3 linked regions of the Homo sapiens genome follow. The protein of the gene in region 3 purifies or fractionates together with the protein of the main gene of each other region. This does not show direct contact. Each region holds a gene or a part of one and is shown on either strand. Other genes may lie near its edges.

Region 1 (3,734 bases), on a different chromosome or scaffold from region 3:
AAATGAAATGCTGTATGTACAGTGTGAGCTGTTCTCTAAGCATGATTTTCTACTACTGGTAGATGATGAGTCAGTCTTCACCACTGTCATCACCTACCCCACCCTACTTCCAACTCCCTAAAAGTCCACCATTCCTTTAGAGTTGTAGTATATTTATATCAATTACTGATAACTTTAGTGTAAATTAGGTTTAACCATTGTTTGTAATAAAACCTACCACTTTGTTGGGAGTAACTTTTAGAGGAAGAGATTCATGGGGTGAAATCTCACAGTCCCGGAAGCATGGGTTATACTCAGCTATTTAGTCAGGGTGTGCCAGCGATGAGTTTGCATGTTAGTACTTGTGATCCTTTTTCTCCCCTGTGATGTAGATTTGGTTTCCTTATTTCAGAGCTGGGAAAACACGTCAAGATAGATTAAAAGTAATCTGCCCGATACATAAAAAATCAACAACAACAAAAAAGTAATCTGCCCAAGATTATACAGCTAGGAAGGGTGAGGCCAGTATTTGAACCCAGGCTTTTTACTTGGTATTACAATTAATGAATTAAAAAAAAAGATTATAGGTATTTATTTATTTATTTATTTTTGATTATAGGTATTTATTTTTAAAAATCTTTATTTTCTTCTTAGCTTTGGCTTCAGTGACAAAGTCACCATGAATGGTCATGTCCCAGTTGGATTATATGGGAATGGCTTCAAGTCGGGTTCTATGCGTCTGGGTAAAGACGCAATCGTTTTTACCAAAAATGGAGAAAGCATGAGCGTGGGCCTTTTGTCTCAGACCTACTTGGAAGTCATAAAAGCGGAGCATGTTGTTGTTCCAATAGTGGCATTCAACAAGCACCATATCCTTTTGGTTGTGAAATAAAAGCTGTGGAGAAACTGAAGAAATAATTTGGAAACATTCTATGTTTTTGCCTTCTTCCAGATTATTCCCTTTGAATAACACCTATTCCATTTCTTACCTCTGTCCTCTGCATTTACCCTACACCTGAGGCTAAGGGTTTGTCCCTTTCTCTTCTCTGTTGGAATCCTGCTATGGAAATACTCAACATTTTATGTTAAACTTCCCATAGCTCTTCTGTTTACTTCAGGGTTATTGTAGACTAGTAAGACTTTATGGTTTGGCTTGAAAATTTGACTAGTGACCACAAAAGGCAGGATAACTTTAGGAAAATGCCTTTTGTATGAACACATTGGAATATTAGAAAGTATTAAGTTAGTTAGGAATAATAATCTGCTTATTTTTTATTCTTCTTCTTGTTCATTTGAAATCAAACTGCCATGTTAAAACTTAGAAAATAGGCTGAGCTCGGTGGCTGATCCCTGAAATTCCACCACTTTGGGAGGCCAAGACAGAAGGATTGCTTGAGCCCGGAATTTTGAGACCAGCCCAAGCAACGTAGGGAGACCCTATCTCTACAAAAAAAATTTAAAAATTAGCCGGTCGTGGTGGTGGGTGCCTGTGGTCGGTCCCAGCTAGGCTGCAGTTAGCCCTGATCATGTTACTGCACTCTAGCCTAAGCAATAGTGAGACCCTATCTCACAAAAAAAAAAACCTTAGAAAATTATTTATAAATAGTTTTTCTGTTATTTAAGTTTATAGAGTTAGTTTTCATATTGTAATTATGAAAACTATGTTGTCAATCTGAGTCTTTAACTTATGATATACGACAGATGATTAATTTAGCAGAATCAAAAGCCAGCCTTGCTGCAATTCTGGAACATTCTCTGTTTTCCACGGAACAGAAGTTACTGGCAGAACTTGATGCTATTATAGGCAAGAAGGGGACGAGGATCATCATTTGGAATCTTAGAAGGTAAACGTGGACATAGATGTTGACCGTTTGGGAAGTAAAGTGCACGTGCAGGGTGGTGGTGTTATATTCATCTCTCGTTACACACAGTAGAAATACATGGAAAGGTACTCATTTTTTGGTGTAGTTACTGATTTGTCTTTGCCCAGGATATGTTATAGAGGCCATTTCAGCTTCAATTTGAGATATTTTCATCTTGTTAAAAAAAATTTTTTTTTGAGACGAAGTCTCACTCTTGTTCCCCAGGCTGGAATGCGATGGCGCAATCTCAGCTGACTGCAGCCTCCGCCTCCTAGGTTTAAGCGATTCTCCTGCTTCAGTCCCCCGAGTAGCTGGGATTACAGTCGCCTGCCACCATGCCCGGCTAACTTTTGTATTTTAGTTGAGACAGGGTTTCACCATGTTGGCCAGGCTGGTCTAGAACTCCTGACCTCAGGTGATCCACCCGCCTTGGCCTCCCAAAGTGCTGGGATTACAGGCGTGAGCCACCACACCCGGCCAAAAAAAAAAATTTTTTTCTATCCCTGCCATTCAGTCTCCATTAGCACTCTATTCTCTCTCATTTATTCCACCCCGTCTTCTCAAAAAAAAAAAAAAAAAAAGAAAAAAGAAAAAAAGCAATGAGAAGACAAATTCAGGAGGATAAATCTTTCTTCATTGTGTACATTACTTAAAACTAAAAGTGATGTAGCACCTGATGAGAAAAGTAATATAGGTGAGATTTTTGTGTTGCTAAAATTTATAATCCTTTATCTTTGTGAGGATAAAATCCTTCGCAAATAAATTTTAAAATTTAAGACTAATGTCTAATACTGAAAGATCTAAGACATACTGAATCACAGGAATAAAGCACAGGTAGTGATAAGCCTAAAGAACTGAAAAAACTTGTGCTATTCTGATACCTGAATTCGTTTTTCTTGCTTTCACTTCCCTACCCCTCCTTCTCCTGGAGGATTTTTTCAATTATACTTTCTGAGGTAATTGTAGATTCATGTGTAGTTGTAAGAAGTAATAGAGAGATGTTAGGTACACTTCATTCAGTTTCCCCTGCTGGTAACATCTAACAAAACTATAGTACAGCCAGGCACACTGGCTCACACCTGTAATCCCAGCACTTTGGGAGGCTGAGGCGGGTGGATCATGAGGTCAGGAGATCGAGACCATCCTGGCTAACACGGCGAAACCCTGTCTCTACTAAAATTACAAAAAATTAGCTGGGCGCGGTGGCGGGCGCCTGTAGTCCCAGCTACTAAGGAGGCTGAGGCAGGAGAATGGCGTGAACCAGGGAGGCGGAGCTTGCAGTGAGCCGAGATAGCACCACTGCACTCCAGCCTGGGCGAAAGAGCGAGACTCTGTCTCAAAAAAAAAAAAAAAAACTATAGTACAGTAGTACTATTGATATTGACAGGATTTTGATGTTGATACAGTCAAGATGCAGGACACTTTAGTCATCACAGGAATCCCTCATGTTGCTCTTTTGTAGCCATACCCACTTCCCTCATAACCCCACTCCCTCCTTAATCCGTGGCAACCTCTAATCTGTTCTCTATTTCTATAATTTTGCCATTTTAAGAATATTACATAAACAACATGGAAACCTTTTGGATTTGACTTTTTTCACTTAGCATAACTCCTGGCGTTTTCCAGGTTCTTGTATGTATAGTTTGCACCTTTTCCTTTTTCTTTTTTTTTTCTTTCTTTTCTTTTCTTTCTTTCTTTCTTTTTTTTTTTTTTGAGATAGCGTTTTGCTCTTTCCCCCAGGGTGGAGTGAAGTATAGCGCCATCTCGGCTCACTGCAACCTCCGCCCACCGGGTTCAAGCGATTCTGCTGCCTCATCCTCCCGTGTGGCTGGGATTATAGGCACCTGCCACCATGCCTGGCTGATTTTTGTGTTTTTAGTAGAGACAGGGTTT
Region 2 (3,500 bases), on a different chromosome or scaffold from region 3:
CTCAGCACCAGTATTAGGTGGTTCCATCAGCTTCAGGGTCCAGCCTTGGGCCAGCGACATGCAGGCTCTTCCTCTCTGTAGTATTCTAAGGAGCACTTTCTGCTGAGGCCGTGCCTCTTCAATTATGGCTTATTTCCTATCTTGGCTTTGTTGTTAGGGTTGCAGTTTAGGTCTCTCAGCAACAGGTCACAATTGACTAGAGCATCCGCGGGCAGCAGCTTCCGGAGTTGCTCCACTGTCTTTTGATAAGCCATTTTTTCTTGTTCCAGGGTCCGGATTAAAGACTTCATTTTGGTCTCTCTCGTCAAAAGATTTTCCAGGTTTGATTCCAAGGCCTGGATTTTAGTATGAGCTACCTGTTTGGGGGGGAAAAAATCCTCCAAATCAAATGATTCATTATAGTAGGAGACAGTCCTTACACATATTAACCAATTACTTCAAATTACTTAATAAAATATTATGTGAAGCAAATACTCTGAAAACCTACAGGAAACGATGATTTATTAGGTTTCACAAAGATGTAACTATGGAACTACCATGCTTCATCTCTTCTCACTGAACACACGAATAATTCAATACTAAATCACCCCCCTCACCAACAGTAGGAATCCTTATTCTACACCCACTGGTGTTCCCCTGAGTGAGTGGGATCTGGCCTGGCTGAAGGAGAAACAGGAGATTCCTGACACTATTGCAGTGCTAAAAGAGATTTTCCTTCTCTGACTGAAATACGGCGTTCTCTAAACATACACTTGGGCTTTCATCAGTATTTATAGATGTGAGGGGTGGCCAAGTAACTGATGATGACTACACTGAACTGTCAGTGAAAAAGTCTACAACAGTTCAGACGAATCATTATAAAACAGGTACAAACCCACCTTCCCTAATAAGGGGCAAATAATTAATCGCCATTGACCTATCCAACTAAAAATGGACAATATACTAACCATTTAGTTTTCTTTTTGAAAATAGAGTATGTTGCCCTTTTTTGAATAGAAAAAAAGATTTACATTTTCTATGAGCCAGAGCCAATGTAAGACAAAGCGAAGGAAGTTTAGTGTTCCCATTCTTGGGAAGCAACTACTTTAGAGATCCCTCATTTCTAACCTGTCTCTCTTGACTGGTCTTGACAGGGGACTCACCATATAGAAGCAGAGTTTTAGTGTTTTCCAGTTTGTAGCCAGGTGCAGTGTTGGGGAAATGGAGAGGAGGAGTAAGTGGAAACCGAGGAGCCATTAGACACTGAAACTCCCCTGAAGTCATCTCCCCGAAGACTTCAGAAGGGTCACCTGCTAGCCCCCATCCTGTGATCACTCTTAAGCCCCTCCCCTCAGGGCATGGCTACATAGCACACATCATACAAGTTGCAAATACCGAATATGACTTTATAATAAATTTCTTATTGCATGTATAAGTGTGCGCTTAGAGACAGATATATAGTATTTTATATTCTCAAATAATTGTGAACTCCCTGATGGCAGGAATGATGTATTAATATTACATGTAACATTTGCATGGGATTCAATTTACCTAGACATGTCTCCCTCTCTTCCAATTTCCATTTTAGTCTAGACAACTCTCATCATCCGCAACAGATTTTCACAAGTGACTTTTAGCAGGCCTCCTTACCTTCTCTCCCATCTCAATCTGTCCTCGTCAAGGTTCCCAGATTGATCTTTCTACAGCATGGCCCAAAAACTTTGAGAGATTTCCCTCTTGACAGGATTAAAGCCATGTTCTTTGGCTTGACACTGAAAGTCACTTACGATTCTGCCTCTATCATATTTACCCTACCTCTCCCCAACCTCTATCTTAAATTGACACTAGGCTAACTTTGCTGCTCTGCCATGTCCTTCTGATTGATGCCACCCTCCTACTCAGCCTGACTTAAAGACCCTCCTCACTCATTTCTTCCACCAACCCTCCAGATTCCAGCTCAAGCCCAGGTCCTTCACAACTTCATCAATTTCCTACATTCAATTCCTCCTCCCTTTAATTTAACCAAATATCTATAACATGCAACAGGTATTTAAGCAGATTCCACTTTGAACTGCCATTTAGCTATTTTGTGAGGGTGCATTTTTTTCCAAGTAATGTTTAATTTAACATGTCATTTGTAGCCCCAGAGCACTTGGACAGTCTGATACATGGGCTCTTGGTTAGCAATGGTTCATTCCACGCACATATCCCTTTCATTCCTGAGGTAGTTCTGTGCATGCAGGAGGCATTGAAGTACTTATTTGCTCAAATCTTTATTTCTTTACCTGTAATTTTTCTAGGAGGTCCATGTTTTGTCTTTTCAGTTGGCTATTGGCCCTCTCCAGCTTCTCCAAAGTTTCACTATCCTCACAGGAATATGAAGATTCCTGAAGCTCATCCTGTAGCACATGATATTCCACCTCATAGGCATGCAACTGCTTAGAAATATCCATCTCAAAAACCTGCCATGAAAGTATCATGGGTTAGGCTAGCCTTTGGTATGTATAACAAGATACAGCCTGTTTATCTTGGTATATTTCATGTATATTTCCAAATACTTATTAATGAAGAACATTAAAGCATAAAAAAGCAAAAAAAAAGTGTAACTGTCAATACAAGAATAAATTAGATATAGTTTACACTGTCAACATAAAAACAGATAGCTCTTTCTGTGAAAGAAGATTTTCTTTAAAAACAGAACAGATAGATTATTTCTATGCAATTGAAACATTCTCATGAAGCTAAGTCCCTAGAATAAATTAATGTCCAAGTGTATTTGGCAGCTAAGATATTCATAATCTAGTAACTGTCTCCCAAAATGTAGTATACTAGATAAACAACATTAGTTATTGAGTAATTATTATGTTAGAGATAATCTCTGCTGATTAGTAAGCAAAATTGCATAGGGTATTACTGTAATAAAGCAACCAAAAGCATTTCTAATTTATTTGCCAATGGAGCAGAAAGATCTTAATAAAATTTTGCATCCATTTGCTATTCCCTGTAAGCCTCTTAAGAGTCATTTACATATTGTACCACACAGAGAATCCTCAAAATTGCACACTGTGAGCACTGTCCAGGGCTGTAAGGTTTAATTAGGGCTGCTACTGCTCTCCCATGTCACCACTAAATAGGAAGGTCGTTTGCTTTGAAGCTAGAGGACAGTTACTCCAAACTTCCTAGGGGGAAGGAGAGACAACAGCTGCTATTCAAGCAATGGTGTCTATACTAACACTGAGAAGAGAAAAGAAACCACAAAAAACCTGACTTACTCTACTACTTACTAATAGAGATACTCAAACATTCGAATTTTAATAAGAGAATTTCTAGACTAACTGGTTATCCTCAAATAACCATCATCTTTTCCTTACTTAGTGGGTATGGATACAATGGATTATTATACAACCATTAAAAATGATAATATGGATTTATAGTTACTGGAAAAAATCTAATACTTTATATTTTTAATTATAAATCAGGTTCCACAATAGTATATATAGTATGATTTCATTTATGTACAA
Region 3 (3,734 bases):
ACTAGCTGGGTAACATGGTAACTAACTGCTGGGCCTTAGTTTACTTATTTGTAAAATGGGTACAACCATACCAGGTTTAGGGTTGTGGGCACAGAGTACATTCTCACTAAGTGTGCATTCCTTCCTTCCTGTCCCTGTGGACTCTAGCCATCCTACCACATTGGGCTGAGGGCCAAAGTCCATCCCCAGTAGGGGTCTGCTTACCAAACTTGACAAACAAGACTCCAGTGGAAGAAACCACCTCCTTGCCGTTTGTTGCCACGCACTGGAAGTAGCCTGTGTCTGTGGTGTCGAGGTTTCTAATCCGCAGCCGAGAGCCATAGATGGTGGACCGAAAGGAGAGCCTCCGGGGCTCCTGGACCACAGGAGCATCATTTTTGAACCAGCGGATGGTGGGAGGTGGATTCCCAGAGACTTTGCAGTGCAGTTCTGCTGTCTGGCCCAGAGACGTGGTGATGTTATTCATTGGTTCATCGAGGGTCAGGTAAGAATCTGTGAGCACAGAGAGGAGGCAGGTGAGAGGGGCAGACAGCTTGAGAGGGCTTCCAAGCAGCCAAATCCCCTCCAGTGTACCCTTGGGATCACAGAGAGGCTGAGCAGGAGAGGCAGGTGAGACAGACAAGGAAAGAAACAATCACATTGATTAAGACCAGAGGACTGCTAAATAACCACCCATAGAGCCTGCTGCTTGGAAGAAAATTTGTCACTAATCAGAGTATAGAACCCAAAGTCTCCAAAAGACTACATGGATAAGCTTTTGTGCTTCAGATCAAAAAATCATATACACTCCTTGTTCCAAATTCCAGCATAGCAAAAGAGAGAAAATAAAGTTCACCTCAAATCTCCCCACCCAAAAATAACACCATTTTTAACATCCTGGCAAACATCCTTCCAGTTTGCTCACTTTTGATAAGAAAGAAAGCATCAAAAATTGGAAAAGTAGGAGCAACACATTCATATCCACATGGCACAAGATCAGAAAGGATGCCTGAAACTTTCATGTTACTGACAATATAAGGTTATGAAGGCCAGGTCAGAGGCAGACAGAGTAATAAAGCAATGGACATTTCCATAATATTACTGATATCAACCATAACATGTTACAATATGTAATTATTTTGATCACATATATATAGATTAATTCATATACAATACTGTGCAATATACAGATCTTAGTTATACAGTTCTATGAGTACAGGCAAATGCATATACTCATGTAACAAATGTCCCTATCTTGATAGAACATCAACAACCCAGAAAGTACCCCCACAATCTTTTGTAGTTGGTCCCTGCTCCCAACCACTCCCTCCCACCCCACCTTGAAGCAACTAAGGTTCTAATTTCTATTACCATAGGTTAATTTTGCCTGTTTCAGAACTTCATATAAATGGAATCATGCTGCATGTATATTTTGCTTTGGCTCCTCTTAAGATTTATTGCACTATGAATTTTAATAACAAAATAAGTTTTATTTAAGCTTATTCTTCAATCAAGTATTTAAACATCAATATTAATATTAGTTGTAGAATCCAATTGCAGATAAAATTATTTATTTATTTTTAATTAAGTTTGATTTCTTTTAAAAACGTGCTCTGTTATTCATGGGTAGGGAGCTTTCTTTGGTTTCATTTTTCCTAAGCACCCCTTCTTGGATAGATCCCCTGCCATACTTTCTCATTGTCCTATGTCCTTCCGTAGGTCCAAGTCTGGGGTAACTTGTTCAGCAGAGCTATCAGCCCCATAAGGGCAGGGATGGGAATGTTCTGGTCATCACTGCATCCTCAGTGTATACTACTGTCTAGCAGTGTTATCCACCAGAACTTTCTGCAATGATGGAAATGTTCTATAATCTGCACTGTCTGATTGATAGCCACTAGTCACACAGGGCTTACTGAATGCATGAAACATGGCTGGAGCAACTGAAAACTGAATTTTTAAATTTAAATAGCCACATGTGGCTAGTGGCTACTGTACTGGACAGCACAGGTAGAACGCCACAAATTTGTTGAATTTAATGGAAGTTTATTGAAAAGTAACATTTTTCTGAGCTATTTAACCGGGTAATTTAATTGCCCAAATGTCTGTAAAATGAGTTCATAAATGCTAAAAATAATTGATTCATTATTTGCTTTAATTTCCGTCCCCCCAAATTCAGAAGGAACATTGTTAATGTCTGGGCAGCCTCACAGGAGTGTGTCTCACATATGAATGGCATTTATCACATGTGCAGTAGGAAACAGATTAAGCATGACTACTGCATTACCATAATGACACTTTCCATCTCACTTAAGCCAATGAATAATTATCCTTCACAACAGATTCATGAGCCCATAAATGATCTTGCTAATGCTTTGCTTCCTAACATTTATATTTTGATCTCTATCTTTGGGCATGTTTCTCCAATCTATATACATCTATACTCAATCCACGAATGTGTTTGCTCATGGATATAAGCACATATGTTCCTAAGATGTTTGAGGTATGCCCAGAAAGGAGGGAGACTAATTAGCAGATGGCTCTATGGAGCCATTATCATGCCTTTATAGCCCCATATCATTCATTGAGAATAGATAACTATGTACCCTTTGTGGAGAGAAACTTAGAGATAGCAATCACATAACAATGCCACTATAAGCATAGTGATTAATACTGCATTGGACAGGTTCTGGAATTTGATTGGCTGGGTTTGAATTCAGGTCAGCCCCTTGCCTATCTGTGTGACTTTGGGCAAGTTACTTAACCTCTTTGTACCTCAGTTTAACCAACGGAAAAACCAAAATAATAAACAGGGCTCCATCTGAGGGAACTGTTAGAAGAGGATTAAAATGAAAGTGAGTGACATCTGGGAAGCACTTCAACCAGTGTTTGGCAAAAAGTAAGCACTCAAAAATGTTAATTAATGTTGTTACTATTGTTTTTATAACAATAACTTCTGTATACCACTTTTCACATGACAAAATGTTTTCACAGCCTCTGTCTCCTGTTATCCTCTAACAATCTAGAGAAGTAAGAAAGGCACATTAATTACTATGATTTCCAGTGCAGATGAGGAAGTCATGTCTCAGAGATTAGCAGACTTGCCCCATGGTTACTCAGGAAACTGCCCAAAGCTTCCATCACTAATGGCCTTTAATCCTCAGGCTCAGCCAAGCACCTAAAGAAAGTCCATTTGAGGCAGCTGGCCAGTTCTGGACCAATAATGGACTATTTTGAAATCCTACTATATGCTAGGGCTTTACTTTAGTATTCACCTGTATGCTAACTTTGCAAGGGAGAAGTCATTATCACTGTTTTACAATGAGGAAACCTAGGATCAGAGTGGTTTAGTGACTTGCCGGAGGCCTTGTGGCAGAACTGAGGTCCAATTTACATCTCTCTGGCTGCCAAGCCCAAATCTTTTCACTCCACCAGTCTGCTTTGGTACCATGAGACCCATTGAGGGCTGAGATTTGGTACCATGAGACCCATGGAGAGTTGGAATATCTCCCTAAACCAAGGTGGGCCGTGGACACACATATACCCACAGGGTTGTGCTCTTCCCCTAACTTCAGCCAAGACTGTCTGGTTAATGGGCCTAAGCTTTAGCCATGGGTGCTGGCTGATGTTCTTTCTGGTTTCCCTCCAGAGGCCAGGCACCTCACCTGATCTGCTCTATAAAATATCTATCTAAAAACAACATGAGGGTTGCAGGGCACCTTGAAATCAGTGTAGTAGATGACCCAAGCAGTGTGTTT

The links.
Region 1: the proteins of ROR1 (region 3) and MORC3 purify together in Homo sapiens (affinity purification with mass spectrometry; one study listed by BioGRID and IntAct). This does not show direct contact.
Region 2: the proteins of ROR1 (region 3) and TBC1D4 purify together in Homo sapiens (affinity purification with mass spectrometry; one study listed by BioGRID and IntAct). This does not show direct contact.

The regions. Positions count from the first base shown.
Region 1 is NC_000021.9:36,337,099-36,340,832, forward strand, and holds part of MORC3 (MORC family CW-type zinc finger protein 3), read left to right. Parts: intron 1-633; coding exon 634-848; intron 849-1,675; coding exon 1,676-1,823; intron 1,824-3,734.
Region 2 is NC_000013.11:75,286,670-75,290,169, forward strand, and holds part of TBC1D4 (TBC1 domain family member 4), read right to left. Parts: intron 2,442-3,500; coding exon 2,265-2,441; intron 357-2,264; coding exon 123-356; 3' UTR 1-122.
Region 3 is NC_000001.11:64,046,449-64,050,182, reverse strand, and holds part of ROR1 (inactive tyrosine-protein kinase transmembrane receptor ROR1 isoform 1 precursor), read right to left. Parts: intron 493-3,734; coding exon 205-492; intron 1-204. UniProt on the Homo sapiens protein: Has very low kinase activity in vitro and is unlikely to function as a tyrosine kinase in vivo. Receptor for ligand WNT5A which activate downstream NFkB signaling pathway and may result in the inhibition of WNT3A-mediated signaling.